Regions from separate parts of the Homo sapiens genome. Here regions 1 and 2 are each linked to region 3. Evidence: fine-mapped expression QTL. Tissue or cell type: whole blood. Region 3 holds a variant in brackets; each other region holds the start of a gene. All regions are shown on one strand. Distances are from middle to middle.

The links.
Region 1: ADAM8 starts here. The variant in region 3 is fine-mapped to the expression of ADAM8 in whole blood (TOPMed, PIP above 0.99).
Region 2: it holds the start of VENTX, and the variant in region 3 is fine-mapped to the expression of VENTX in whole blood (TOPMed, PIP 0.96).

What each region holds. Positions count from the first base shown.
Region 1 is chr10:133,272,292-133,282,289 of GRCh38, forward strand. ADAM8 (ADAM metallopeptidase domain 8) reads right to left here and starts at 4,577. Exons shown (of 23, transcript NM_001109.5): 1 at 4,481-4,577; 2 at 3,193-3,296; 3 at 1,868-1,944; 4 at 1,660-1,738; 5 at 1,471-1,547; 6 at 963-1,152; 7 at 666-728; 8 at 507-575; 9 at 125-294. The coding sequence starts at 4,526. TUBGCP2 (tubulin gamma complex component 2) reads right to left here. Exons shown (of 18, transcript NM_006659.4): 16 at 9,932-9,998; 17 at 8,982-9,145; 18 at 6,344-7,610. The coding sequence ends at 7,475. RefSeq lists enhancers at 2,070-2,719, 2,757-3,016, 4,020-4,667, 5,982-6,031, 6,522-6,601 and a silencer at 4,267-4,826.
Region 2 is chr10:133,232,139-133,242,062 of GRCh38, forward strand. It overlaps VENTX (VENT homeobox), which reads left to right and starts at 5,717. Exons shown (of 3, transcript NM_014468.4): 1 at 5,717-6,017; 2 at 7,538-7,698; 3 at 7,794-9,790. The coding sequence starts at 5,777. The coding sequence ends at 8,168. RefSeq lists enhancers at 1-460, 2,878-3,482, 4,692-5,295, 5,296-5,900, 5,901-6,504.
Region 3 is chr10:133,017,334-133,027,331 of GRCh38, forward strand. No RefSeq gene overlaps it. Among named protein-coding and RNA genes, the nearest start is that of LINC01168, 57 kb to the left of the region's middle. The variant G/A (reference allele first, on the strand shown) is at 5,034.

The sequences.
Region 1 (9,998 bases), 250 kb after region 3:
ACAGATGCCCTGGACACGGCTCCCTCCCCACTTCCCTCCCACCCCAGCCCTGCTCTCCCTTCCACCCCACCCTGCCCGCCCTCCCTCCCCAGCCCTCCCCACCCTGCCCGCTCCGCCAGCTCACGTGATGAGCTGTACGTTGTCATGCAGGTGCCGCCGTGTCCGTTGCCGTGCCTGCCAGGTCAGGAGGTTCTCCAGTGTGACACTGGGGTCGGGGCTGACGTGGAACCTGTCCTGACTATTCCAAATCTCCAGGCCCACCAGGACCACACGGAAGTTGAGTTTCTGATATAGCTGGAGAGGTGGTGGAGTCCTGGGGGTCAGGCAGGGTGGCGGAAGGTACAGCAGGGAGGGTGGGTGGCGGAGGATGCACCTGTCCCACGGCGAGGTGGGGCCAGGCACAGGTGCGGGGCAGAGCTGGAGCAGGTGGAATGAACCCTGTGGCAACACCCCCCCCACCTCCCGCCAGGGGCTCTGGCACCTCTGCAGCCAGGACCGCTGCCCACCTTGTCCACGTGATTCACCACCTCCAGCACCCGATGACGCACGGCTGCTTCGCTCCCCAGCATCTGGAACTGGGGACACGAGACCCTCAGGCTGGAGCCCACACACCCCCCATGCCCCCGCCGCCGGCTGCTCTCCCACCTTCCCTGCCCCCAACACACCTCTGCATTGTCCACGACCACATACAGCTCCACGTAGCGGGTCTCTCGGGATGGCAGAGAGTCCTGGGGAACAGCCACAAGAAGCCAGTCAGCCTTCCCAGCGCCGGGGCCTGGACCCTCCCTCAGGGACCCGGGGCCACTGTCCAGCCCCTGTCCAGTGCTGGGGGAGCGTGGCCAGGCCTGCTCCAGGCTGCAGACAATGGGCAGCACCCAGCACATGGGGAGCCAGGAGGACTCACAGGCCAGGCAAGTGGACACCGGCAGGGCCAGCCAAACACAGGAGACAAGGGTGCTCACCCCGGGCCGAGGCCTGAAGACGGCTGCCGTCCGGGGTCCCAGGAGGCTGCCCAGGCTGTCGTCGCTGACCCCGCAGGTCCCGGCCGTCTGCAGCAGGTGCTCAGCCTGGTACACGGCGTGCCGTCCGCCCTCGCCACCTTCATCCAGGGGCTCGATCAGGTGCAGGTCTGACCCCACCTGGAAGAAACCCCTGAGGGGAGTGGGAGCCGGGTGTGCTGTGGGCTTCAGAGTGGCCTGGTCCTGCCCCGAAGGACCAGAGGCTCCAGTTTGTTGCCTACAGCTCCCCCTACCCTGCCACCAGCAGCCCCCCGCAGGTGACTTCAGGCCCCAGGGTACAGGAGGGTGAGCCTCTTGGGCTTGGCGTCCCCTGAGCAGACCCCCATGCAAGACAGCAAAGGCCTGAGTGGGAGGAGGAGGCACCCTCCCTGCCTCCCTTCCCCACCCCCACCACAGGCTTAGGCCTTCCTCTCCACCTGCGGGAGCCCTGGCGTTCGTCCGCCACACCCACCTGAGGCCGGCACAGGTGCTGAGGCTGGCGGCTGAGTCCGGGTACCCCTCTACGTGGCCCTGGTAGAAGCAGTGGTCCTGCGGGGGAAGCAGGAGAGGGGTCCACAGGCTGTGCCCCCATGGCCCCACAGGCTCGGGGAGGGCCGCCCAGCCCCTACCTGCCCGCCCAGCTGCTCCGCCCGACCCATACCTGCCCGCGAGGCTGCTCCGTCACCTCGGAGCCATTGGCAGCCGTATAGGTCTCTGTGTAGCCGGAGCCCAGCAGGTCCCTGGAAAAGAAGTGCTGTGACTGCCTCGGCCCCCTCGGTGCAGAGAGGCTGGCCCAGAGGCTGGACGCCGGGGACACCAGTGTGCTGGAGCCAGGCCCGGGCAGGGGGGCCGACCCGAGACCCACTCACCTGTTCTTCCGCAGGTGGAGGGTGAAGTTGTGCCCTGTGGCCCCAAGGACGTAGCTCACCCTCTCTGGGTGCAGGCCCTGAGCGAGGAGGGAAGGGTCCCAGGTGAGCAGCCTGCCCGGGCTGTGCCCACCTCAATCCTGGGGGCCAGAGAAGCTCAGCTGGGGGGGAAGGGGTGCCGGCCTCCAGCCCCAGGTCAAGGCTCCATCCTGGAGGGTCCACAGCCTCAGGCAGGGTAGAGGGTGGAGGGTGGAGGGTAGGGGGCAGGGGGTGGGGGGTGGAAGGTGGAGGGTGGAGAGTGGAGGGTGGAGGGTGGAGGCGGGGGGCGGAGGGCAGAGGGTGGGGGGCGGGGGGTGGAGGGTGGAGGGTAGGGAACGGGGCTGTGCTGAAGGCGACCGGCGGAGCCCAGCACTTGGGTAGACAGGAAGGACACGGTGCTCCTCGGTCCTCCCAGGCCTCAGTTTCCCCATCTGACCACGCATGGGTAACGACAATGCCCCTTCCCCGAGAAAGCATAGGGTGGGGGAGGCATAGCCTCAGCCAGGCAGCAAAGGAGGTGGGTGGCGGGGATAGCACGCACAGGCCCCTCCAGCGACAGCTGCCTGCCTCCAGGACCCATCCCTTCCAGCAGCTGCCGGACCTGGTGGTGCCTGCAGAGCCTCCTGCTGGACCACTGCATCTCCAGCCCCCATGTGCAGGCTGGGGCTCGGCCTGCAGAGCTCTGGGACAGCCTTAGCTGTGCCACCGGCTGGATGAGCCCAGGGCAGCGGGCAGGTCGGTAGTAGGTTCCCCGGATGCTGAGGTAAGGACAGGGCTGGGGCCGGAACTGCCCTCCCTGGAAACAGGTGCACACATGCATATGCCGTGCACATGTGTGCACACCCACCCACTCAGGCTTCAGGAATCACCCTCGGGCAGCCCCAGTCGGGGAGGGGGGCATTCTCAGTTTCTAGCCCTGGGAAACCCCCGCCAGGCCCCCCCCCCAACACAGGAAGGTGTGTCAACTCTGCGGTGAGCCAGCGTCACTTCTCAAAGAGGAATTTGGCTTATCAGCCTCGCCAAGTGAAACTGGGGAGGGGCCCGGGGCCAGCACAACCTGCCCCTGCTCCCTTCCAGGGGTCCATAGAGCTCCTGAAGGAACGAGGAGGCTGGGAGCCCTCAGGCAGTGCTGGAGGGAGGAACGGAGATGGGCCCCAGGGGGCTAGAGCTGTACAGGGCAGCCCCAGACACCCACTGGCCTCTCACCACTTTCTGTAAGCTAAAGCTCCTTTCACAAAAATAGGCTCAGGGGCCAGCCAGGGACCCTCCCCAGGCCAGCTTAGACTCACCAAGTGGGAGGGCAGAGCTCGGCGGACTCGGGGGCCTGGCAGACGCCACGGCAACACGACCTCATACTGCTCCATGAGGGCCCAGGGCCGGCTGGGGGCAATCGCTGCAGGAGGGAGGGTCAGCAGGCATGAGGGGCCGGGGGGCAGGTTTCCTTCCCAGAGGCCTCCTGGGCCCTCAGATTCTGTCTCTTGCTGGGCTTGACCCTCCCCTGGGGAACTCACCAGATAGCTCTGGGACAAAGACTCAAGTGAGGGTTCTGTGCCTAAAAGACCCCAGGAGCGCCCCCAGGCATGGCCGGTGGGCCTGTGTCCTGCAGCACCCACACACAGTGCTCAGAGACGCTGTGGGTGCCAGCGGGTGCCAGTGACTCCACAGGTCTCCAGGCTGTCTCAGATCTCTGGAGGGGCCCGAGGGCAAGGATGAACCTTCCCCCCAGGGAGGAGGACTCGGGCCGCCGACCTGCCCGTTTCCATTCTCCTCCTCCATTCTTCTGATCATCTGATCGCATCTAACTGGGGAGCAGGAAGTGCCTCCCGGAGGCTGTTCACCTCCCAAGAACTGGAAACTCCCTGGTATCCGAGAGCAGAGGGCAGGGTCCCAGCATGCAATGGGCAGGGTTTCGGAGACCACCAACCCCAGGACCCTTTGCTCCCATTAAAACACAATAGTGGACGTGTCTCCATGACCACATCTCCAACCTGGAGAGGCAGCAGGGGAGCAGCCAGCCCCTATCTGCCCAGGAAACTGGCGGGAAGCAACCCGGCCTCCAGCCTGAAGCTCCTCAGCACACCCCAGCCCAAGTCACTCCAGGAGCAGGGGTGGGATCCAGGGTCAGCAGCCCCATGTCCTCCCCCAGGCAGGAGACGGGTCCCCTCAGCCCACACCCCTGCACTCCAGGCCTCAGCTTGTCTGCCCTCCCTTCCCTCCTCGGCTAAATAGTGGGGGTGGGTAGCCCCACAGGTGAATCCCAGGAACCCAGGGCGCCTCGCGCAGCAGGTGAAGCGTCCTGCTTGGCCCGGCCCCGACCCCACTAACAAGCTCAGAGGCGGGACTTCCCTCTCACAGTTCACCTTTGAAGGTTCCCTCCGACCTCCCCGGCCTCCCCGGCCCGGGGCTCTCCACCCAGAGACCACTGTGCACCTGATGGCCCGCTCCCAGGGACCAGCCCGAAGCCGGGCCAGGGTGCGGGGTGCGAGCAGGCCAGGGGCTCGGGGTCCGCGTCGCGTCCTGCGGGGAGAGCCACCCTGCCCCGCGCTGCGCCCGGGACGGTTCCCTGGAACCACTCACCAGGCAGCATCATCGCGCCCAGCAGCCAGAGCCCGAGGCCGCGCATGGCCGGGTCGGGGAGCAGAGGCGGAGGTGACAGCCCCGCGGGACACGGTCTGGTTCCTGCGCTCCTGGCCCGAGGCTCTTTTCCGCGCGCCCCGCCCCGGCGCCCCGCAGCCAATGGGCCCCTCGGCCGGTGGGAGGGGCGGGGCGCGCGGCACCTGGGGGCGGGGTCCGTTTCCCCTCTCCCCACAATCCAGCATCCTCCCTTGCACAGGTGAGGAAACTCAGGCACAGCCTGTCCCAAGTCCGGCCAGAGCCCCGAGAGGGGGCCTCTCGAAGGACCCGGCGGCTGGAAGGAGGTGGCGCCAGGCAGGTCCTGGAGGGGAAGGGACTTGTGAGGGCCGCCTGGCGGTTTCAGGAGAGGGGGTCTCTGATTTCCTGGGGAACAGAAAGCCTCAGGCAGGGGCAAGTCATGGCTTTGTGGGCATAGGTTCAGCCCTGTGGGAAGCTCTGCCACCCTCCCCCCCAAGCCTGCGCCCCCTCCACCAGGCTGAGGCCTCACCGGAGTGGGATAGGCATGGGCCCGCAGGCGTCCAAGTGGGGAGGGGGAGCCCTAGGTGGGGGTCCCAGCCCAGGTGATGGCAGGTGCAGGGGCCGTCCCTAGCCTAAGATCCCCAGACAGCAGCTGACGCTGGCCGACGTGGACCAAAGCCTGCAGCAGCCCACCGTGGCCTGGCTCCGGCGTCTCCAGGCCTGCGGCCAAGCGTGCTTGCCCTTGGTGACCACATTCCCCGTGGTGGGCTCAGCCTCGAGGGTGCAGGTTTGGGCTGACACCACAGCTCCCCAGACGGTCCACCCAGGACCCCTCCCTGGGGCTTTCACAGCCAGGCCGCCCTCCTGGAGTGGGAACAGTGGTGGTGGCAGGAAAGGCAGCTCAGATGACCACACAGGGCGCTGCTGACAGATCACATGGGGGGGGGGGGCCTCAGGGCCTCCCTGGGGAGAGGCAGGGCAGGGCCAGCAAGGGGCTGGAGGGAGTCCTGCCTGGAGAGAGGGCACCAGGGCAGGGCGAGTCAGGGAACTGCACGGGCCTAGGGGCAGAGGACAGAGGTCAAGGGGCAGTGGCAAGAAGAGGCCGGGGCCTCGGACGTTATCCTGGGAGGACAGGGAACCCGGAGGATCTAAGCTGGCGTGAGTGATGCTGTCACATTTTGTCTCAAAGCCATTCTTACCCTAATGTGAATGGCATGAAAAGCAAGAAAGCAAGGGCTGGCACTGGGCCGCAGGTGACTTCTGCTGCCTGGGGGTGTGTCCGCTTGCCTGTGTGGCACAGGACGAGGTCCCCCAGGCTGCCGAGAGGCTCCCAGGTAGGGCTGGGGATACTGGCCTGTGCCTGAGCTCATGCAGGTGACCCTGTTATTATAGAACAATGGCCAGCTGGCAATCACACTTCCCTTCCTTGACCTCATGGTGCAAGTTACTCAACAGCAAAGTGCAAAGGCGGCACGCTGGCCACATCAGAGGCACAGCAAGGCCCCTGCCGACGCTGAGCTACCAGGGATTTATTCCTAAAAAGACAGGACCAGCTTGGGCCAGAACAGGCTCCTCCCGCGCTGAGGAAGTTCCACCCAATCCCACAGAACACAGCTCTCCTCTTCAGCAGGTGCCGGGGGGTCTGGGAGCCTGAACCCCACAGCCCTGGAGGCTTCCCTCCCCTCCTCCTATCACCACCTGCAAACCCCACTTCTCAAGGCCCAGGGCTTCCCAGACCCCAGGACACAAGATCAGGGGTTTCTGGGCCTCGGGGCCAGGCAGGAAAGCTAGCAGGCTCCTCTGCTCACCAGTCCGGCATTTGCACAACACTGAGACTGACAGCTTGGGTTGCTGATAAATGTGTTTACTCACAGGCCAGACCTGCACAGCCTGCAGACAAGGAGGAAGCGGTTTGTGGCTGGAGAGTTGGACACCCCCACCCCCACTCGGCGGTGCTCTCAGTGAGGCAGCCCCGGGTGAGAGCTGCCCACAACCCTTGTTCCCCGCAGGATCCTGTTCTAGCTATCCTTTCTCCCAACCTCGCCTCCAGGGCCCTTCCTCACTGCCCAAGGGGGCCGAGGTGCTGAGAGCTGAAGGTGACAACAATACACATGCAGGTCAGCAGGAAGGGGCAGCTTGGCCAGAATGTAACCAGAGCAGACCAACCTGGCCGGGCAGCCCTGAGGCTCCCAGGGCCCTGTCACACTGGGGATGGCGGTGCTGCCCACTGTAGCCCTGGAGGTGGGAAGACAGGGCAGATGATCGCCCGAGGGGGATTGGGTGTCAGTCTGCTGAGTAAGTTCTACGTAACAAGGCGGTACCGGATAGGGCGGGGTGGGGTTTCCAGCCAGCAGCAGAGCCTGCCCCTCGACCCACTCCCACGGAGGGGGAGGTGTGGGCTCCCAGGGTGCCTGAGGGCCCTGTCTGTGGCCTCCTGCCCTGGACCAGTTGGAGCAGCAGCAGGAGGAGGGTCGTGGAGGCGGGTGAGTCCTCAGGAGAAGGAACGGGGCTGCCTCTGGGGCCAAAGCAAACCCGACACCCGATGCCCGGTGGGTTTCCACAACTCCCTGACCGTTTCCAGAGGCTTGTCCCGGTTCCGACAGACCTCAGGAAGCCCGGCCCCAGCTCACCCGGAAAGATGTGGACACCAGGCCTGGATCTTACCCCACATGCATCTTTGCTTGCTCCTGGCTTAAACACCATGTATTTCCACTTTGAGGCCAAAAACACCCAAAAAGGTGATAGTGTAATTTCAAAAAGCAAACAGATTAGCAAATCCAGGGAGACATCCACCCTGCCTGGGCAGCTTCTATAAAACGAAACCCAGCGCCTTGAGAAACAAAGTGAGCTGAGTCAATCATTCCTGCTTTATATTTAAACTGCAAAGACAGAACACAGAGCATTCGATTTGAAAATTCTGGACCCATTTGCACCAGTCCCTGCTGACCCCACACCCTTCCTTCCTGTCACAGCCAGGGCTCACTGTGCGGTGACTGCGACCCTGGGTGCAGGAGCCGGGGGCCCCCGCAGGACAGGCACTTGGGGGGTGGCCTTCTGGCTCCTCTCTGCAGACAGGCGCTCCAGGCGCTCCGTGTAGAAACCATTGAAGTCAAGCCTGTGAGGAAGGACAGTGGAGCTGGGGTGCACACCCCTTCTGCGGGTGCATGCTGGGCAGCAGGGGTGTGGAAGGACGGTGCAGCTAGGGTGCACACCCCTTCTGCGGGTGCGTGCTGGGCAGCAGGGGTGAGGAAGGACAGTGGAGCTGGGGCACACACTCCTTCTGCGGGTCCGTCCTGAGCAGCCCTGCTCCTACCATGGGGAAGTGTTCAGCTACAGAGACCATAAGAGGCCCTGCAGGGGTGAGGGTGAGGCACGCTCCTAACTAATGTTTCCACAGGAAGGTTTTCAGTCCTGTTCAGTCCTGCTCAAAGGCACAAACACAGGTTTCTTCTCTCCTGGCCCCAGAAAGTTGGGGCTCCCATCACCCCAACAGGGCCTAGCAATGGGGCCTGAGGTGTCAGGGGCTTGGAGAACCAAGCAGTGGTTCTCAATGCAGGGTGGCCTCAGAAATCCCTGCTCAGAAAATCAGAACATTTGTGGGGGGCACAGGGCACAGGGTGGTCCAAAAGCACAAATAGGCACCTTCCCAAGGACAGCACCCCCAAGGGCACCACCCCTTCCAGGCTGGCAGTTTGGCCACCTGGCCCTTTCCCCCAGGCTAGGTGTTAGTGCAGCATGAGGGAAGCTGACCCAGGCCTGATCAGCCCCACAGGACACACACAGCCGCAGGGTGCCAATGGGGCAGCCCAGTTGCACAGAATGTCACACCCCAGGGAGAGCTGGGCTAGCCTGACTTCAGGGAGTGGCATATGACCAGCACTAGCACCAGGACACAGACCTGCCCCACCTTCTGAAGGAGGCTACACCAGGTGGACCAGGGGAGGGTGCAGGGGAGATGGGGCCTGGATGCAGGGACAGGTGCTGAGCTGGGGTGGCGCTGGGCTGGGGCAGATGCTGGGCTGAGCTGAGGAAGGGCTGAGCCGGGGCAGGCGCTGGGCTGAGCTGGGGGAAGGCTGAGCCGGGGCAGCACTGGGCCAGGGCGGTGCTGGGCAGGGGCAGGCGCTGGGCTGAGCTGGGGGAAGGCTGAGCCGGGACAGCACTGGGCCAGGGCGGTGTTGGGCAGGGGCAGGTGCTGGACTGAGCTGAGGAAGGGCTGAGCCAGGGCGGTGCTGGGCAGGGGCAGGTGCTGGGCTGAGCTGGGGGAAGGCTGAGCCGGGGCAGCACTGGGCCAGGGCAGTGCTGGGCAGGGGCAGGTGCTGGGCTGAGCTGGGGGACGGCTGAGCAGGGACAGCACTGGGCCAGGGCGGTGTTGGGCAGGGGCAGGTGCTGGACTGAGCTGAGGAAGGGCTGAGCCAGGGCGGTGCTGGGCAGGGGCAGGCGCTGGACTGAGCTGAGGAAGGGCTGAGCCGGGGTGGCGCCCACCCACCTGGAGATGACGCTGGCCATGCCGTGCTCACAGTCACTGGTGCTATAGATGCTCAGCCGGGCCAGGAGGTCCAGCAGGTGGGCTGAGAAGTTCTTGTCAAACTTGTTGATGGTGGCCTCGAAGCCGGACACCAGCTGCACAGTGTCTGCGTGCTCAGCCAGGTGCTGGAAAGAAAGCCGGGGTGCGTGAGCCATGCCCACCCCCACCGTGGGCCTTCTTGGCTCCACACTGTTCCCAGCAGGCCGGTGTCCTTTCCCTTCCCCTTTTCTTAAATAGAAAACATGGGTTCCATGATGTTTTCAGGAGATTCAAGGTAAAAAAGACATCAAAAAACATTCCTGAGAACCCAGCACTCAGAGAAACACTCCAGGCCTCGTGGGATGAGGTGGTCACTCTCCTTTGGGGTGAGATGAACGAGCTTTCCCAGCAGCTTTCTCAGCAAGGAGGTCGGGGCGCCTCTCAGTGTCCCTCACCTCCGGCCCCCACGCTTCCAAACCCAACTCCTCTCTGCCAGCTCCAGCTCCAGCGTGTGAACACGGGACTGCCCACCCCACCATGCCACCCCGGAGCCGGCGCCGCAGGGCCATGCCTCCGAGGACATGCAGCCTGTCCGTGCCTGCTGAGAGCCTGACGGTTCTAACTCAGGACCGAGCTCAGCAGGGACAGCGGGTGTGGCCCCTGCCCTCGCCCAGGCGCCCTGCACAGCGCTCGCTCTGAAGATCTGTGGGGGTTCCCTCGAGCCCGACTGGCTGAAGTGGGGACCAGAGAGCTGAGAAGATTGTGAGAGGCTCTTGTGCTTGTGCTTGGAAGCTAATTTTAAGTCTTTTCTTCAATCTGAGGGGAGATGGAAGTAAAAGGGGGGAGGTTTGTTCTCCCTGCGTCAGGATGCCCAGGCTGCCGCCCAGCCGGGAGGAAGCGTCTCTCTCTGGCCAAACCTGGAGGCCACGCACCTTCCTGGCGAGCTCCTTCCGGGCCCGCTCCTCGGCCCCTGCGGGCAGCCCCAGGACGGTGCTGTGC
Region 2 (9,924 bases), 210 kb after region 3:
GGGTGGGCCTAGGGAGGCGCTGAGCGTCTGGGGTGTGATCCTTGGGCAGAGGCTGAGGGCAGGGTCCTTGCAATTTTGAGAAAACCGAAGCAAACCTGCCCAGGAAGCATTTTCCAAGTAGCAATAGAGGGCCCCACCCTGGACCCCTGAGTCAGAAGAGGGATTGGCTGGAGCCGGAGATACAAATGTAGCCTGGAGGAGTTCCGCTAGCATAACAATGCCTGCAAATTAGTGGGCCCATCCAGAAAGACAAGTGGTTTGCCCAGGGCCATGCAGCTAAATGGGGCTGGGGGGGTCCCCGCTGGCCCAGCACCCAGCAGTCCTGAGGGGTTCCCTGTGGGTGGTATGGTTGCAGCCCCTCCTGCACATGCTTTTCTGGGTATCCAGAAGAATAGTTCCCGCTAGTGCTAAAGGCTGCTCCTGGGGAAATGAACGGCTTGCCCAGGTCTGAGGGGGAGGCCTGTGAGACCACGCCTGCAAGAACTGACTCCAAGCCTCACCTCATTTAAGAAACTGAGGCGCCGGACGCTGTGGCTCACGCCTGTAATCCTAACACTTTGGGAGGCTGAGGTGGGTGGATTGCCTGAGCTCGCTCAGGAGTTCGAGACCAGCCTGGGCAACATGGTGAAACCCCATCTCTACTAAAAATACAAAAATTAGCCGGGTGTGGTGGCGGGTGCCTGTAGTCCCAGTTACTCGGGAGGCTGAGGCAGGAGAAGTGCTGAACCCAGGAGGCGGAGGTTGCAGTGAGCCAAGATTGCGCCACTGCACACCAGCCTGGGCAACAGAGACTCTGTCTCAAAAAACAAAAAAACACTCTGAAGGCAGACGCGGTGGCTCACGCCTGTAATCCCAGGTCTTTGGGAGGCCAGAGGCGGGCAGATCACAAACGAGGTCAGGAGTTTGAGACCAGCCTAACCAACATGGTAAAACCCCATCTCTACTAAAAATGCAAAAATTAGGCATGGTGGCGTGAGCCTGTAATCCCAGCTACTCGGGAGGCTGAGGCAGGAGGAGGCAGGAGAATCGCTTGAACCTGGGAAGTGGAGGTTGTGCACTGCACTCCAGCCTGGGTGACAGAGCGAGACTCCGTCTCAAAAAAAAAAAAAAAAAATAGACACCCTAGGCCAGGCTAGGTGGCTCACGCCTATAATATCAACACTTTGGGAGGCCTGGGCGGAAAGATCACTTTGAGCTCAGGCATTCCAAACCAGCATGGGCAACATGGTGAGACCCCGTCTCACATCAGCTCCACCCTGCTGTGTTTCCTGAGAATCTTCAAGCTGCTAAAAGCCTGTTGGATGAGCCAAGCTTGCAAACATTCCCCCTCACATACACAGCCCCCAAAGGTCAGAGTCACAGGCTGAGGCCACAGTGGGGTCTGAAACAGAGCTTAGGTGCACCCTACATGACCCTGTCGCTCCAGAAGGTTACTGCTGACAGCAAGCCCAGGTCCAGACAGCCACATCCCAGCAAACACACCAGCACCCTAAGGGTGGGGGCTGTGCCGCTCTATCACTCGGGTTACTGGACACTCGGCCCTGGAGGAAGGACCCATCTCTGGGCTGGAGCAATTTAGGGGCACCAAGCAGAATTAATCTGCCTTCCTACTCAGGTAGTGGGGCAGGGGCCACGTGCTATGATCCTCCTGAGCCCGGTATCAGAATAATGAATCTGAATACATGGGCCCCGGACCTCTAATGCTTTCTAATCTGGTGCAGAGAGTGTATTTTGGCTGTTTAAATCAATCTAGGGGCCAGATGCGGTGGCTCATGCCTGTAATACCAGCACTTTGGGAGGCTGAGGCAGGAGAATTACTTGAGCTCAGGAGTTTGAGACCAGCCTGGCCAACATGATAAAATCCCATCTCTACAAAATACACAAAAATTAACTGGACATGGTGGCACGCACCTGCAGTCCCAGCTTCACTGGAGGCTCAGGCAGGAGGATCACTTGGGCCCTGGAGATCGAGGCTGCAGTGAGCTGTGATCACATGAGGCGCTCCGGCCTGGGCAACAGTGAAAGCCTGTCTCCAAAATAAGTAAGGCGCTCTGTAGGCATGGCAGGATTAGCCTCCTGTGTGCTGTTTAATGGGGCCAGTGTCTGAGCACAGTTGGTTTAGCGTTACCTTTTTTTTTTTAGATGGAGTCTGGCTCTTGTTGCCCAGGCTGGAGTGCAATGGTGCGATCTTGGCTCACCACAACCTCCGCCTCCTGGATTCAAGCGATTCTCCTGTCTCAGCCTCCCGAATAGCTGGGATTACAGGCATGTATCACCACGCCTGGCTAATTTTGTATTTTAGTAGAGACAGGGTTTCACCATGCTGGTCAGGCTGGTCTCGAACTCCCAATCTCAGGTGACCCGACCACCTTGGCCTCCCGAAGTGCTGGGATTACAGGCGTGAGCTACCGCACCTGGCCGGCTTAGCGTTTCTTTATCGGCCATGCACCAGACCAGCCCCACTTCCTAGTGGACGTGTCGGGGAGCGGGGAACATGGGGGAGTCGGGGAGCGGGGAGTGTGGGGGAGTCGGGGAGGGGAGCGTGGGGGTGTCAGGGAAGGGGGCGTGGGGTGTCGGTGAGGGGGGCATGGAGGTGTCGGGGAGGGGGGCGTGGAGGTGTTGGGGAGCGGGGATCGTGGGGCGTCGGGGAAGGGGGCACGTGGGATGTCAGGGAGGCCGAGGCCACAGGGGTGGGTGTTGGGGAGGGGTTGGGGAATCTCTACAAACTTTTTTTAAAGTCTGGTTAATTGACGTGTAATTCACATACAGTAAAACTCACCATTTGTAGTGTACGGTTCTACGAATTTGTAAAAATACATATAGTTGTGCAACCAAAACCACAATTGAGTTACGGAACATTTCCATAACAACAAGAAACTTTTTTTGTGTCCCTTTATAGTCACCTGCTCCCTGACTCCCAGCCCTGGCAACCATTGATCTATTTTCTGTTCCTATAGTTTCGCTTTTTCTAGAGGGCCATATGAATGGAATCATACAATGTGCAGCCTTTTCAGCCGAGTCTCACTCTGTCGCCCAGGCTGGAGTGCAGGGGCACGATCTCGGCTCACTGCAACCTCCATCTCCCAGGTTCAAGAGATTCTCCTGCCTCAGCCTCCTGAGTAGCTGGCCTCCCCCTCAGGTGGTCCCAGAGTGCTCGGAGGAGGCTCGGGCGAGTCGCGACGGGGCCGGCAGCACGCGCTGGGCCCGGTGTCTGTCCTCAGGCCCTGGACTCGGGGGGAGCGCGTTTCGGGGACTAGCTGGACTCCGGGCTGTGCGTGGGGGCGGTGCTGTCGGCCTGGGAGTGACGCGGGACTTCCTGCCCAGCGCAACCCGGCCTGGCCCCCGAGGGTGGGGGACAGGGCGACGCCCGCGGGGACCACGCTCTGGGGCGTGCGGGGCGCAATTCACGGGGCTGGGCTGCCCCAGGGGCTGGGAGGAAGGAGGCAGGGGGGCGCCCAAGTCTCCTACCCATGGCAGCGCATCAGGGCGCGTCCCAGAGCCGGGGGTGGACGGAGGCTTGGAGGCGGAGGCTTTGGGGACCCCCAAGCCTGGGCTAGAGCAGCCTCGGCGGGCTCTAGAGGGAGGGTGGAGGGAGGGGCCCGGGCTGCAGGAGGCGGGGAGGCCTGAGCCACGGTGGTGGGGCCGCTGGGCAGGAGAGAGGGGCTGCCTGACCCTGCCGTGTGAAGGTGAGGTTGTCTTCGGGCTTGGGGGGATCGGAGGGGGCGGTTCAGGTGGAGGTGGTGGCGGGGGGCTGGGAAACCGGCAGGAGGGGCTCTATGTAGAGCTGGGGGTGGGGGTGCTGAACCACGTACAGAAGGGGGCTGAGACACCGGGGCCCTGGGCCCCGGAAATTAGAAATGGAGAAATGGAAGGCTGGGTGCTGGCGTTTCGGAAATGCATGCTCGTGGTGTTCCTCTTTATGTAAGGGAAGCTTCTGGGCCTTTTCCCTGCCTGTCGAACGTTCTGTATGTTTTTGCGGGATGTGTGAGGTGTGCTGTCTTGCTCCACTTTGAGGCACCGCCCCCACTGCGGGAGTGCTGGGGACCTGCCCCATGGGGCATCCTCGGGGCCAGCCCTGTGGCCACAGGCATCTGGGCCCTCGCTGCCCCTGGCCGGGACACACTGCCGGTCCTGTGCAGTGGCTCAAAGCCCCTCTACCGGGGGTGACCCGGTCTCTCCGGAGATGAAGTGCAGCGGGGGTCTAGGCCGGCTTCCTGGCCCCCCACCCCTCCTGGCTTTACCCCCGAGGCCACGTCCAAAGCCCCCAGCGCCCCACCCCCGCCAGCCTCCCCCTTGAGGGCCCAGTGACCTAACTGGGCCGGCAGGGTCCGAGGAAGACCAGGGTCAGCGGCGGCACGGTCCGTTCCGCGACCCCTCTCCTGTGACCCCAGGTAGGCCGCCGATCGGTTCCCGGCTGAGGTCCCGCCCCAGCGCCCGCCTCCCGGGCTCCAACCTCTTTGCTCAGCCCGGGAGGCTCGGCTGGCTGGGGCGGGCGTAACCGTGGGGCGAGGCCCGCCGGTCTTTCTGATTTCCGCGGGCGGCGTGGGCGCTGAGGCAGCCGCGGTCAGGACCTGGCCGGGAGTCGGGGCTGCTCCGTGGACCCCGCGTCTGCGCCGAAACCCCGCATGGCTTCGGGGGCCGGACCTGCGCCTCCGCCTAACTCCGGCCGCCGGAGACGCCGTGCGGACCCCAAGCCAGTGCGCGGAAGACACCGTCCTACCCTCGGCATGGCTGCCTCCCACCCGGTCACGTCGGTCCCCGCGCCCCACGCCGACGCGCAGGCGACCCGGGGACGCGGAGACGCAGACAGCTCGGGACTCAGGTTCGTGGGAGCAGCGGCCGCGCGTGGCTATGACCGTCCCGGGGGCCCGTGCTCAGGGCGTCCCCGTGAGGTTTGGGCGCCACAGTCACCGGCGGCTCTGCCCGCGCCCTGGCCACAGTGGGGACAGCCTGGCTTGGCGGGGACGCACCAGTCCCGCCGCCGACGCGGAGTTCCTACCCCGCCGTGCGAGGCAGTGGCTCCGGCCCTTCCAGCTCGGGATGGAGTCAGGGAGCCGCCCGCGCCCGAATGCAGAGGCTCCTGCGATGGCCCCGGAGTGAGTCCCCCAGAGGAGCCGGATTAGGGCTGGAGGCGGCCGAGTCCCCCGAGAGGCCCCTCCCGACATTCCCGCCCCCGCGCGCCGCTCCCCGGGTCCTCCGCGTCTCTTTCCCGGGAAAGCCTCCCTCGGTTCCTGCGCGGCCGCACAGCCTGGACGCAGCGCACGCGGGCACCGGCCTGACTCTCCCACCCCGAAGCCTGCTCCCAACCTAAGTCCGCCCTGACTCTCCCAGCCTGAAGCCTGCTCGCCCTCGGGTGTCCGGGCTGGGCACAGGCGCCAGCGTCCCCCTGGAGAGGAGAGGTCGCCCGGCACCTCCCAGGACAGGCCCAAGTGGGAGTGGGACCCTCCTACCTTCCTGCAGCCTCGGCCCGCGGGGTGGGGGGTTGGGAGAGATGAAAGGAGGTGACCGATCCCGAACCATCGCCTCTCCATTAACCAGGGCCCGCAGCCCCGCCCCTCCCCCAGACATCGAGGAGCCGGGGAGGTGTGAACGGCCTCCTTTGTGCCTCTGAATCGAAGGCAATTAGGCGCTGCTTATCTGGGCATTAGCCGTGTATGCAAACCGGGCTCCCGCCCCCTCCTCCTGGGCTTATAAACGCCGCCGCCTGGCGAGGCCCGAGGTGGATCCTGCGCCTGGCCAGCCCCGCCTGGCCTTCCCTCCGGCCCACCTGGCCGCCATGCGCCTCTCCTCCTCCCCACCTCGTGGCCCGCAGCAGCTCTCCAGCTTTGGCTCCGTGGACTGGCTCTCCCAGAGCAGCTGCTCAGGGCCGACCCACACCCCCAGGCCTGCCGACTTCTCCCTGGGGAGCCTCCCTGGCCCAGGCCAGACATCCGGCGCCCGGGAGCCCCCTCAGGCCGTCAGCATCAAGGAGGCCGCCGGGTCCTCAAATCTGCCTGCGCCGGAGAGGACCATGGCCGGTAGGTCCGGGTGGGGGGGGTCCCTTCCTTCCCAGGTGGAGATGGGAGTGGGGGAGAGGCCAGGAGCCCGGCGGCTGCACTCCCCGCGGTGCCCTGCCCACTAGGTCAGGGCCGGGGGCGTTTCCATGAGGGCCGGCGGAGGCCTTGCCGGCGCCCTCACTGGAGCGCAGCTTCCCTCGGAACCAAAGCCTTGACGGGGATTTCCTCTCCTTGAGCCCCCGGTGGGCTCCTCTGCCTCCTTTTGTCACCCCGTTCCTCAGCTGTGTCTTCGTCCCCCACCCCGGCCTGGTGCCGAGGGACCGTCCAAGGGGTCCCCGTCCGCACCTCCCTGCCCTGATTCCGGGCGCTCACTGAAAGTCTCGATGATTTGCCAAGCCCCCCGCCCCCGCCCCCCAGCACAGCCGGTGCCTGCTCAGCGTCTAGGCTCAAGCCCATTCCGGGTCACCTGGAGCACAGCTGTCTTTAAAGAGCCTGCAGGTTCGCTGCAGGGGTGGCGGTGACCCCGATGCCTGCAGAAACTCTGAAGTTCCCTCTGTGGCCGCCCAGATGCTCTGTTGTCTGCTGAGAACAAAGGTTCTCTGCGTTTGTGTTTTAGTCTTTGTGACATCATCACCACTTTTAGGTTTAAGGTAGTACTTGGTCAAAAGTGGGGTTGACATCATCTACAAGTTTTCATTTTTAAAAATTTGACTGATCCTTATGGAGTGACTTTGTACTTAAGGGAAATGAAAATTTAAATGTATTCTCCCCAGCTAGCTATCCTGCCCCACCCCAAAAAAGCCAGCCATCCCTGTCCCGCAACCCCCTTTCTGATGCCAGTCCTACAGCCCTCCCTGCCAGAAGGCATTTGCTTTTTGGGTCTACCATGTGCTTTCAGGCTAACGTTAAGACAGATTTTGTAAAATACGCTTCCTTCCGCAGAAACTCCAGCGAGCATTTTGGTCAGACTTGCATTTAATGTCGAGCTCGATTGGCCACGTTGGCCTTTCCTGGGACCCAGACCCAGCTCCACAGACCACCTCGTGGGGCCGTTTGGTGCCAGCCCCCATTCCTTAACTTAGAAATTAGGAAACAGACTTGACCACAGTGGGCCTGGGGATTAACTGAGTTGGCCTCCGCTGGCTGAGGAGACGGAGCCCGGGACAGGGATGGGTGCCCCTGGGTGGGTCGCCAGGCCTTTGCATATAATGGATTCTTACCTTACCGGCCTGGAAGGCTGTGGGAAGGGCATCCTGGGAACCGGCTTCTGGAAGGGAAGTGTGGGATGGGGCGGAACTGAGTGGACTGAGCGGAGGGCAGGCCCAAGCTGCTGTTAACATTCCCTCCCCTCTTGAGCCCCCTCTCTGAGCCCCCTTTCCGCATGTGACCTGGGAGGCGGCGGGGGTGCTGCTGGTCACTGTCAGGTGAGAAGATCTGCCCTGCCCAGCCCCCAGCATGGCTGTCTTCACCTGTTACCCGTGGGCACGAGCTTGCCCCATGGGGTGGCATGTTGAGCCAAATGCCCTTACCCTCTATGTCAGGGTTGAGTAAGGAGCCAAATACCTTGCGGGCCCCCCGTGTCCGCACAGCCTTCACCATGGAGCAGGTCCGCACCTTGGAGGGCGTCTTCCAGCACCACCAGTACCTGAGCCCTCTGGAGCGGAAGAGGCTGGCCAGGGAGATGCAGCTCTCAGAGGTCCAGGTGAGGTGGGCCGGGCAGGCTGGGGTGGGCAGGGGTGGGCAAGGGTGGGCTGGTGGCCTAGTCTCACCCCTGTTCTGATCTTGCTTTTCCTACAGATAAAAACCTGGTTTCAGAATCGCCGCATGAAACACAAACGGCAAATGCAGGACCCCCAGCTGCACAGCCCCTTCTCGGGGTCTCTCCATGCGCCCCCAGCTTTCTACTCAACGTCTTCTGGCCTTGCCAATGGCCTGCAGCTGCTGTGCCCTTGGGCACCCCTGTCCGGGCCCCAGGCTCTGATGCTGCCCCCTGGCTCCTTCTGGGGTCTCTGCCAAGTGGCACAAGAGGCCCTGGCATCTGCGGGAGCTTCCTGCTGCGGGCAGCCTCTGGCGTCCCACCCCCCTACCCCAGGCCGGCCTTCGCTGGGACCAGCCCTGTCCACGGGGCCCCGGGGCCTGTGTGCTATGCCACAGACGGGGGATGCATTTTGAGGAGGCACCTCTGACTCCCACACTCGCGGTCTTGCTGATCGCACCTGGCTCCTACCTGGAGGACTCAGTTGTTCTGTTTACATCCTGGTGGCACCTCTCACCCTGACCCACACAAAGGTTCTGGAGATTACTGGAGAATATATATAAATATATATATGTACGTATATATGTAAATACACATATACGTATATATAAATATATATATACATATGTGTGTGTATATATATATATATTTTTTTTTTTTTTTTTTTTTTTGAGACGGAGTGTTGCTCTGTCACCCAGGCTGGAGTGCAATGACGCAATCTCGGCTCACTGCAACCTCCGCCTCCTGGGTTCAAGCGATTCTCCAGCCTCAGCCTCCCGAGTAGCTGGGATTACAGACACCCGCCACCACGCCCGGCTAATTTTTTCTATTTTTAGTAGAAATGGGGTTTCACCATGTTAGCCAGGCTGGTCTCAAACTCCTGACCCTGTGATCCGCCCGCCTCGGCCTCCCAAAGTGCTGGGATTACAGGCATGAGCCACTGCACCCGGCCCTGAGAATATATTTATTAAAGCCACCTCTTCACTGAAAGTTACCGAAAGAGTCGGTTTAGGAAGGAAACGAAGGGTCAGTGAACAGAGTCAAATGCAGAAGTGGGCTTGTCATGGGTAGGGCTTTCGGCGTACGATAAAAGGATCATTTGTTTTTTAAAAGGGGTTGGAAAAACTGGTTTTCCAGTTGGAAACAGTAAAGGTTGTAAGCTTTGTGTGTACAAAAGAAAACAGGGAATGCAGGTGTGTTTATAGCGTTGTGGTTCAAGTCCCTCTTAACAAGAACTCCAAAGCTGGAAAGCAGGAGGGAACAAAGGTGAACATGAAGGCGAGGATGCTGGGGCCCTGCAGTGCGCTCTAGGCTGTGCGTGAGCCGGGACTGTACCCACAGCTTGCTGAGGGCTGCTCTTCTTGGGCCAGGGAAAGCAGGGCAGCCGGGACCTGCGGCTGTGCCTGGACTGAAGCTGTCCCGCAGGTCCCCACCCTCCAACACGTGCTCACCTGTCCCCCTGCTCGCAGCAGCCTCGGGACAAAACAATGACTCAAGGACAGCACTTCTTGCAGAAGGTCTGGAAGTGCCCAGAATGGGAGGCACGGAAGCCCCTCCCGGGGAGGACTCCCGCGTTGATGGACCGTTCTTGGTGCAGACTCCTGACTGCGTGCATGAAACCTGAGACAAGTGCAATTCCTTCCATGTCGCCCCAGAGTGCCCAGGAGGCAGGCAGTGCGGGGTGCCCAGGCAGACGGGTTCAGCCTGCAGAACTGGAGGCGACCTGTGAAACCCACCCGGGCACCCCAACAGGAACAGAAGCGTGGTCCTGCGGCTGCGTCCCCAGCGAGTTTCACTTTCCCCTTGCTCGTTTCTCCCTTGTTGTAAGTGTTTACAACTGGCATGTGCTTTTAAACGTCAGGTAAGAGGGGAACAGCTGCTGTACATCGTCCTGGCGAGTGACAATGTGACAGAAGCCTGGGCGAGGCCCTCGGAGGGCAGCAGCTGGACAGGGACTACTGGGTTTGGCCTGGACAGCACTGATTTGTGGATGTGGATGGGGGCACGTTGTCCGTGATAAAAGTACAAGTGCCCCTCACCGCCCGTGGAGATTGCTTTCTGGTCCCCTGTGTGGCCCCAGGCCACAAACCACACCGTCTTGGTCCTGAACTCTCCCGGTGAGTAAGGGCCCTGGCCTGGTGGTGTCTCGAGGTCCTGCCAGCACACTGGGCC
Region 3 (9,998 bases):
GTGAGGCAGCGCCACCTTGGAAAAATTTGCACGGTTCTGGCCGGGGCTGCCAGCCTCCAAGGACACCTTGAGCCTGGCAAGGAGGGGTCCAACCATTTCTCATGTATGGCCACACACCACTTCCGTTCACAGAGACCCCAGCCACTCCGGGCGCCAGGTGCTGACGTGCCACGTGGGCATCTAGTAGACACGGATGCCGCATGGGGGTCTGGTAGACACGGATGCCGCATGGCGTCTGGTAGACACGGATGCCGCATGGCGTCTGGTAGACACGGATGCCGCATGGCGTCTGGTAGACACGGATGCCGCATGGCGTCTGGTAGACACGGATGCCGCATGGCGTCTGGTAGACACGGATGCCACATGGGCATCTGGTAGACACGGATGCCACATGGGCATCTGGTAGACACGGATGCCATATGGGGGTCTAGTAGACACGGATGCCACATGGCATCTGGTAGACACGGATGCCGCATGGGGGTCTGGTAGACACGGATGCCGCATGGGCGTCTGGTAGACACGGATGCCACATGGGCGTCTGGTAGACACGGATGCCACATGGGCGTCTGGTAGACACGGATGCCATATGGGGGTCTAATGGACACAGATGCCACATGGGCGTCTGGTAGACACGGATGCCACATGGGCGTCTGGTAGACACGGATGCCACATGGGCGTCTGGTAGACACGGATGCCGCATGGGCGTCTGGTAGACACGGATGCCGCATGGGCGTCTGGTAGACACGGATGCCGCATGGGCGTCTGGTAGACACGGATGCCGCATGGGCGTCTGGTAGACACGGATGCCGCATGGGCGTCTGGTAGACACGGATGCCATATGGGGGTCTAATGGACACAGATGCCATATGGGTGTCTGGTAGACACGGATGCCACATGGGCGTCTGGTAGACACGGATGCCATATGGGCGTCTGGTAGACACGGATGCCACATACGGCGTCTGGTAGACACGGATGCCACATGGGCGTCTGGTAGACACGGATGCCACATGGGCGTCTGGTAGACACGGATGCCACATGGGCGTCTGGTAGACACGGATGCCATATGGGGGTCTAATGGACACAGATGCCATATGGGTGTCTGGTAGACACGGATGCCACATGGGCGTCTGGTAGACACGGATGCCATATGGGCGTCTGGTAGACACGGATGCCACATGGGCGTCTGGTAGACACGGATGCCACATACGGGTCTAGTAGGACAGCGGGACCCGCAGGGAGCGTGGTGACAGAGACCGTGGTGACCGGGACCGTGTGCAGGGACCTGCCCTCCTGCTGCTGCATAAACGTTCGGGGGTTGGGGGGCTCCAGAACGGGGGCACCAGGTGCTCAGGAAGACCCGGCGGAGCCTTCGCCTCCCAGGCCCAGGGGCTGTCCTCTTTGTCAGCCGGGGGTCATCACAGCCAGGGGGCTCTCCCCCGCCAGAGCCAGAGTCCAGAACGTGCTCCAGAAGCCGCGACATGTCTGGTGCCCCGGGACTGTCTCTGGTGTCCGCAGCTCTCGTTTGGGGAGAAAAGGATTTCTCTGCTGAATGCTCTTCCCCCACATTAAAATCCAGGCTGTTGATCTGATTCTTAGCACCATGATTTTATACACTGTGTTTTCTTAAAAGAGAAAAAAGGGATTTTTGTATCCTGAAAAAAAGCATCATCTTGCTTTTGTAAAATCTATAAAAGAGCCTGTGATTTCTTTTTTGTTCCGCATGGTTTATTGAGCTATGAGGCTGGAGTTTCTTTCTGACAGTTTAATATCGAGTGACAGCCGAGGCTGCCTCTGAGAGATGCTCTTTCTGAACAAATGAAAAAATACACTTTTCCAGATTTAGATAAAGGTGAAGGTTGTTTGGGGTTTGAAATGTTTTCCTTTTCATGCAGCATAAACATGCATCAGGCACACATCCCTGAGACTCTTTCCGGCACCTTCCGCGCTGGGCGTCTGCTGCCTTCGGAGCTGGTTTGCAGGCGGGGCCCTTGGGATGTGGGTACCTGCCTCGCACTCTGTGCAGCTGGTGTCCTGGCTCCTGGAGTGGCGGTGGCATCCTCGTGGGGATGGGGGTGGCTGGCGAGTGGCCGTCGGATGCACCCCTGCCTCACACAGCCACAGGCTGGAGGGAAGGACCCGAGCGGGACATGGCCTAGGTGGAGCTGGGGCCTCTCCTGTGGTGCGTTGGGCGGGGGGTGGGGAGGCTCCACGCACCTCCCTAAGGGCAGCTGTGACATTTGTGTCCAGGATAAAGGCAAAGTCCACCATGGCGAAGACGCTGCCCTCCCAGTAGCAGGCAACATAGGCCAGAAACAGGGGTCCCTCATCCTCAGAAGGGCTGGGGTTGCCCCCTTCCTGGGCCAGCCAGTGGGGGACCCTGTGCTCCAAGCCGCTAACAGCATGTGCGCTGCTGGAGATACCCGGGTTGAAGTTCATCCTCAGACACAGCTGCATGTTGGGAGCACCCGTCCCTTCGTGCCCACAGTGGCTGGAGACGCGGCTGTTCCAGAGGGCATCCAGTCTGAATTCATGTCCGCCCATGCCCGCCCCCAGCTACTTCCAGAGGCATTTGAAGGGAGGACCTGTGCCCTGCACAGCTGCTTCTCAAAGGGGTGCCAGCACCTGTCCATGCGTCACTAACCCAAGCTCCATGCCGGGCACAGGCTGGGCGTCAGAGCCACCGAAACACCAACCTCTGCCCCAAGTCACTGGGCGGGCGCCTGACATCGACATGCAGGCTGTACCCCCCGCGCAGGGCACAGGGATCCCAGGGCCTTCAGAAGAGCCAGAGTCTAGAACCGGTGAAAGTGAGGGCTCTGCCACAGCTGGTGGGGGTCTTGGGCAAAGCACAGAACCTTCCAGAACTCAGCATCTCCATCTGCAAGTGAGGAGCTGGGCTGGGACCCCTAACTGCACCCAACTCTGGTCTCTGAAATTCTAGGTCCAGTTGCCTGCTTTGGGAAGCGCTGTCTGTAGGCCGGGGCCACCGCCTTGCAGTCCAGTCCAACACCCAAGGACCCGAGTCGCTGGGGTGGGCGCCGGCTGTGGGGCAGAGACGCGGCGCTGCGTGTGAGAAGCTGCTGCCTCCCCAGCGGGATCCCCAGCTCTGCCCGCGCCCTCGTAGGTGATCACTCGACCAATCATGTCCTGAGCAGCACCAGATGGGCTGGGCCACTCACACAGCCACAGACCAGTGGCCCAGACCACCTGAGGTCCAGCCCGAGCCAGTGAAGTCAGGGCCTCCCCTCACCCCAAGATCCAGGGATCCCGCCTGCCCCCCATCCAGCCAGGCACCAGGGTGCGGATTCACGCCTCCTGACACAGCCCCTCAGACCGCGGGTGGAAGCCTCTCTGTCCTTTCCTGCCGTGTGGGCAGAAGTCATCACCGCCCTGACAGGACAAAGGAGAGAATGGGGCTCTCGGCGGGACTGCCACCCTTCTGCCCGAAGGGACAGCCACCTTCCCCCTCAAGAGACGGCGACCTTCTCCCCCAGGGGACGGCCACCTTCTCCCCCAAGGGACGGCCGCCTTCCCCCCCAGGGGACGGCCGCCTTCTCCCCCAGGGGACGGCCACCTTCTCCCCCAGGGGACGGCCGCCTTCTCCCCTGAAGGAGTCAGGAGAGGGGGTGGCTCCAGGAGTTAGAGGCAGCAGTGCTGTTGCCCGGGACACCTTCTCCAAGGGTGTGTGTGTTTGGGGAGAAGCTGGGAACGCTATTTGTACAGCAGTGCTTCTGTGGGAACGCGTGTTTCCAGTTCCAAAAAGCCAACCAAATGCTCAGAACCTCCCCCTGGGCTGGTTGGTGTGATTGAGACTGGTCGCTCCAGTCTGCACCTGTCTGCGGTGACGGCCGCCCTTCCCGTCAGCCCCTCCGCGGTCCCGGCCCCAGCCCTGGGTTGAGGGAGGGCTGGGGAGGAGCAGGGACAGACGGGCAGGCACCAGGACGCTGGCTGCTGCGTGAATGTCACCTGTGGTCACGGCCGACGCCCGGCGGGCCTGGGCATGGAGTCAGGACCGGAAAGCGAGGCCGGCAGCAGCACCAGCTCCTCAGCAAGGCCCCCGCTGCCGACTGGGCACGGGCACTCCAAGGGGACGCCTGGCACGTGCCGGGATCCACGCGCGGAACAATTTAGAGAGGCAGCAGCGTGCGCAGCGGGTGAAGTGGCAGAGGACGAGAGACACTGTGGCTTAATGCCTGAATCCCACGGTTTCTTGGCACAAACAATTCCTAACAAGTGTAGGTGTTTATCCCAGTCACACTGCACACAGCTTCTCATTTTCACCATTAGGGAAAGGTCAAGTTCTCACACCGATAAGGCACAGGGAGGTTGCGGGAGACCTTGGGTCTCCGGGGATGGTTCCTCCAGCGTCGAGGTTGGCGGCCAACTCCGGGCCCCTTTCTGAGTGGCAGTGTCTTATCCTCTCAAGTCTGCGTCTCAGCCAGCGGGTTGAGCTGACTGGGGAATCCTCTTTCTACAGTCCCTCGACGGCATCCACCTGTGTCTGGCTCTCCTGGAGGTCGGCGCGCCTGGCTCGTGACATCGTCCCTCCTTGGAACCCCCCAACGCGGTTGGTCTAATCAAGTTTGGGTGTTCCAGACATTTTGGCAGACATCCGAGCTTACAAACTGTGATAACATATCCACATTAAACCCATAAACTACATTACACCCATAAACAGGAAGGACCCGGGGTCTACGCCACGTCAGACCTGCCCGCGCGTGATCGCAGGCCGAGAACAACCTTCTACTTCCGTTCCCTCCCCTCCAGTGTCTCAGGGCACCCACCAGCCCCAGCACGGTTCTCTCTGATGTGCGGCGCAGCAGCCTGAAGCATGCAGAGGCACGGGGCGGGCGCTGGTCCCACCCCCACGATGTCCTTCGGGGGCGGCTGAGCCCCGCCGTCACCCACGAGGAGCTCTAGGCGTTGGCGGAGCCTAAGGGAGGCAGGGCCGGCTCTGCATGGGGGCCGCGGAAAGAGGCCACCGCGCTTGTCTCCGCTGAGGGCCCAGGCGACTCGTCCTGCTCTCCGGAGTC[G/A]GCCCTCGGCCTGGCTACGCTCTCCCGCGGACCCCACCAGGGCAACGTCAGCTGGGTCCTCTCTGAGCTGACCCTCTTTAGAATACACGGGCAGCCTCCTGACATTGCAGGGCAAAGGCTGATAGCAGTCGGCCCTTTCTGACCTGGAAGTGGGACTGACCCGGCCCGCAGTCCCCCACCCTGTCGTCAGGAGCAGAGGTGCTCACACAGACACACGTCTGTGATGTGGCCGATCTGCCTCTGGAGCTCATGGAAAGCCGGGTGCCTGGAGCGGGTCTGAGGCTCCTGGCTCTGGGAGTCTGGATGGACTTTAAACTCTTCAGGACTGTGGTCCAAGCACCGCAGCCATGGGTGGCAGAGCTCACAGCGAAAACGGACTTAAACTGCTCTGCAGAATTAAGTTTGAATCATTACCTACAAACTCAGAAACGCAGCTGTCACTTGGGCAACTCTGGGTTTCTAGCAGCTAAAAATCATTTCCACCAAATGATCCGTCAGCCGCGGCGGCTCTGGGCCGGAGGAGGGCTGTTTCCTGCCTCCCTCCCGCCCCACTGGCGTCTAATCAGATTACCCAGCATCCTCGGGAAGCTAGCCTGCCCTCAGCCGTTGGGAAAACAATTTATTTGGAAAGAATTTGCTGAGGTCTTGTTACTGCTCAGGGGAGGTTCCCAGTAGCCCTTTGGCCTTGGGGCCTAGTGGAGATTTTGGCTTCAGGATTGTCTCAATATGGCTGAGCAGGTGTCTGGGCCTCGCTCCCTCTCCCTCGTACGTCTCTGGCTCAGGCACTTTTATCAGCACCTTTCAACTTTGTCCACCTCAAGCGCAGGAACAGAAGCTGTTGCCCGTGCCCTGTGGGGCTGGTCCAGGCCTCCCCAGGCACCGGCCAGCACCTGCGTTTCCATGAAAGGTCCCACCGACCACCCACACTCGCAACCCAAGCCTGGCCGGGCCGTCTGCAGCATTTCTCAGCCAAAATAGAAATCAGGTGACACCAACGTGACCACGGCAAGAGCGAGCTGGAGCGGAGCCTCGGGTAGCCATGACTAACAGACATGGTTCGCAAACCCACGCACACCTTCCAAAAACGCCAGGCTGGCCTCACATGACCAGGGGCCTCACCAAGTGCAGTGGGTCCCTGCGTGTCAGGGAGGCTGCCCAGAGCTGTGGCTGCTCCTGTCTTAGCCTCAACCTGTGCCCGGGGCCCTGTGGATGGATCCGCGTGGGGCGGTGGTGTTCCAAGTCCACGTGGGGCGGTGGTGTTCCAGGTCCACGTGGGGCGGTGGTGTTCCAGGTCCACGTGGGGCGGTGGTGTTCCAGGTCCACGTGGGGTGGTGGTGTTCCAAGTCCACGTGGGACGGCGGTGTTCCAGGCCACAGCGGAAGGAGGTGGGGCCACAGATGACTGTCCTGGGTCTCTGGCTGCTGAGCCTGCATGTGTGACCACTGAGAGGAGAGCTCCTGCTCCTTCCAGCCCCGGGGTCTTCGAGCTCCTGCTCCTTCCAGCCCCAGGGTCTTCAAGCTCCTGCTCCTTCCAGCCCCGGGGTCTTCAAGCTCCTGCTCCTTCCAGCCCCGGGGTCTTCAAGCTCCTGCTCCTTCCAGCCCCGGGGTCTTCAAGCTCCTGCTCCTTCCAGCCCCGGGGTCTTCTAGCTCCTGCTCCTTCCAGCCCCGGGGTCTTCGAGCTCCTGCTCCTTCCAGCCCCGGGGTCTTCGAGCTCCTGCTCCTTCCAGCCCCAGGGTCTTTGAGCTCCTGCTCCTTCCAGTCCCGGGGTCTTCAAGCTCCTGCTCCTTCCAGCCCCGGGGTCTTCGCTCTCATTGCCAGGATGAAAGTGTGAAAGACGTGACTGGGGTGGGCACCGTTGTCTTTCCTACTCACAGAAAGGTGGCTCCTCCTGAAGATGCTTGGGCTGACCTGAGCGTACTCCAAACAGGGGCTGAGACGTGAGGACTGGCGATAAAACGCCCCTGGCTCACAACAACCTCATCTTGCCAGAAACATGCGTTCTCCTCTAGACAGCCAAAACCCAAAGTTTCGCTTTAAACATTTTTCCAAGCAGAGGTTTTCTGGGGTATGAAACCTCTAGGGGCTGTTTGGTGGTCTCTGGGCTTTGCCGAGGGCCGGGGTGGCACCATTTTGTTGACTTAGGTCGGACGTGGCTGCCTGAGTCTGCATCGATCCTGCAGCTGGAACAGCATCTGCCCTGGCTGGTTCGGGGCCACTGCCCCCTGAGCGTTCCCGAGAGGTCCCTGAGAGCTCCTGCATTGTCTCGGGGGTTCAGTGAGCAGTTTGAAGGCAGCATCCTACTTTTACACTGCTTTTGACTTTTTTCCTCCATGAATTGAACACTTACTGTCTCTGAAAACTTGAAATCGGCTCCTTTGTCTCCAGGAAGCATAAGTCAGTCATGTAAAACTTTGCCCCAAGCTTTCAATCGCTTTTAAATAACAATCGAAATGTCACTGGATCCGCTCTTGCCGCCCATGAAGCTCTCACTCCTCCCGCCTCGGAACGCAGAGGTCTGTTCCCTCCCATCTCAGAGTCACACACCCGACAACGAAGTCAGCTCTGGAGATGCTGGCAGGGGCCCCAACCGAGAGTGGCAGCAGCGGGCATTGCAGCAGACTTGATGGCCTGTTGGGCGTCCAGGATTTACGGCCACGTTATTTTTACCATCTCCTTTTGCCATGAGACCCGGCAGAGCAGTCCCAGAGTAACACTTGGCGGGGCTCGGCTCTGCGGAGATGTGGCCACCGGGCTCCCTCCGCGTCCCTCGAGGCTGTGGCCACTCCCGCTCCTGCCTGACTTTGGGACCACAGGGTGTCACATCCAATGTCTCATTTCCGTAACATTTGGAAAGGTAACCGGCAAGACATGAAGACTAAGGTTTTCGAGGTTAGCCCTCCAATCTCCCTAAGGCTCCCTGGAGAGGCTGGACACCCTGTGTTATCTGATCAGCACGAGGGAGTGAACCTTAAAATGGGGCAGCTCCCATCACGCCAGCTCCCTGCCTTCTGTCCAGCAGTTCCCAGCCCTGTCTGGGGACAGCACTGGCGCCCACACAGAGGATGAGGAGGGCTCATCAGAGGTCTTCTCCACACGGCACGAGGTGGCATCCCCGGGCCATGGCTCCCATCTGCAGCAATGCGCCCTGCATCCCTTCACACAGCAGGTGCATCCCCTCACCTGCAGGTGCACAGCGGCCAGTGGGCTGGGAGGGTCTTCCTCCAGAGTCCTGAAACAGCGGAGATAATGTGGCATTTTGGCATTTGGGGACACGCTTAATCTTTGGTTTCTGTTTATTTGCCAAGAACCTGTTGCACACCTGTGAAGCCCAGGTCCTGGTGGGGGGAGGATGAGGCAGGGGCCCCCACTGCCCCCCCTTGCAGGGATGGGCTCAGAGGTGCAGTCGGTGAAGCCTAAGTGAGGGCGGGAGCAAGTGTGGGAGCTGGAGGGATCTGGGGTGACAGAGCCTTTGCCAAACAAAGAGGGAAGGAGGGCCCTGCCGAGCACGGAGCATGGGGTGTGTAGGTGGGGAGGGTCCCGGGTGGGCCTGGGAGGCCAGCCGACCCCCAGGAGAGTGTCAGAGCAGAGGCCAGTGTGGGCAGACGCAGGCCCTGAAGAGAGAGGTGGGTGGAGGACGAGGCCTTGCTTCTGAGTGAGAAGCCAAAGGGTGGGACCCACAGCTCTCGGGGCAAGAGGAGCCAGGAACAGGGCAGAGCTCGTAGCCTGATGCAGGCTGGGAGCCACACAGGGCAGTAAAATTCCCCAGTGAGGAGCTGGGATGTGTTCTGCTTGGGAGGCAGGATTTCCTCGACACACGGATGTTAGGCAAAGAAGGGAATGGGGAGCCCAGGACTGCAGCCTCCATCTCTCTCCTCAGGGGCAGGTACTCTGTGTGGGTACCCGCTTGGCTCCTCCAGTGGGGCCCCTCAGGTGCCACGGTGATGCCCCGTGGCCCACATCAGCCGCCTCCTCACAGGAATCCCGCAGCACCAGCCTCCTCTGCACCAGCAAGGCAGGCCCAGGCTCCAGCGGGGGCTTTGCAGAGGACATGTCTACCAGTCCCAGTCCACAGGGCCAACCCCAGCCCACTCACTGCCCTGCTGGGCCTGCTGCCTGCCGCCTTACAATGTGTTCTGGGGACAAAACTCAATAGTTACCAACAGACCCGCATTTCCTGGCAATTCTTGCCTTTAAAATCCTGATGTTACTTTCCAAAAGTAAATGGTTTAAACAGGCTCACAATTATTAATGATTTACTATGCTGGCTTGGAAAAATCAGCAGGACGTCTCTTGTCCAGCGGCGACACAGAACTAGACACACAAGGCTCTCAGCTGCAGCTGAGTGGGGCCGGGTGAGTCTCTGAGTGGCCTTGGACCCACTTAGTGCCCACCGCCTTTCTTGCTTGTACTTCTCAAGAACCACTGCAGATTCTTGCTGGGAACGCAGCATCCTGAGAGAGGGGGGAGCTGACCTGGCAGCCGGGCTCTGTTCCTGTCCCCCGTAGAGCAGGTATGCTGTGGGACCACAGCCAGAGCAGGGTATCCAGAAGCACCGCGGCCCAGGCAAAGCAGGTGTCCTGCAATACTGAAGCCTGGTGCATGCTGTCCCCTCGGTGTGGACCCAGAGCAGCACCTTCTGGATCCCTCTGCGGCAGTGCAACATGGGGCACACGCAGACGAGGCCCGTCCTGCCCTGGGCTGCTTTCCTGAGCCTGGGGACCAGCTTGCCGCCAACCCTGTGAGCCTGGGGACCAGCTTGCCGCCAACCCTGTGAGCCTGGGGACCAGCTTGCCGTGGACCCTGTGAGCCTGGGGACCAGCTTGCCGCCGACCCTGTGAGCCTGGGGACCAGCTTGCCGCCGACCCTGTGAGCCTGGGGGGCCAGCCTGCCGTGAACCCTGTGAGCCTGGGGACCAGCCTGCCATGAACCCTGTGAGCCTGGGGGCCAGCTTGCCATCAACCCTGTG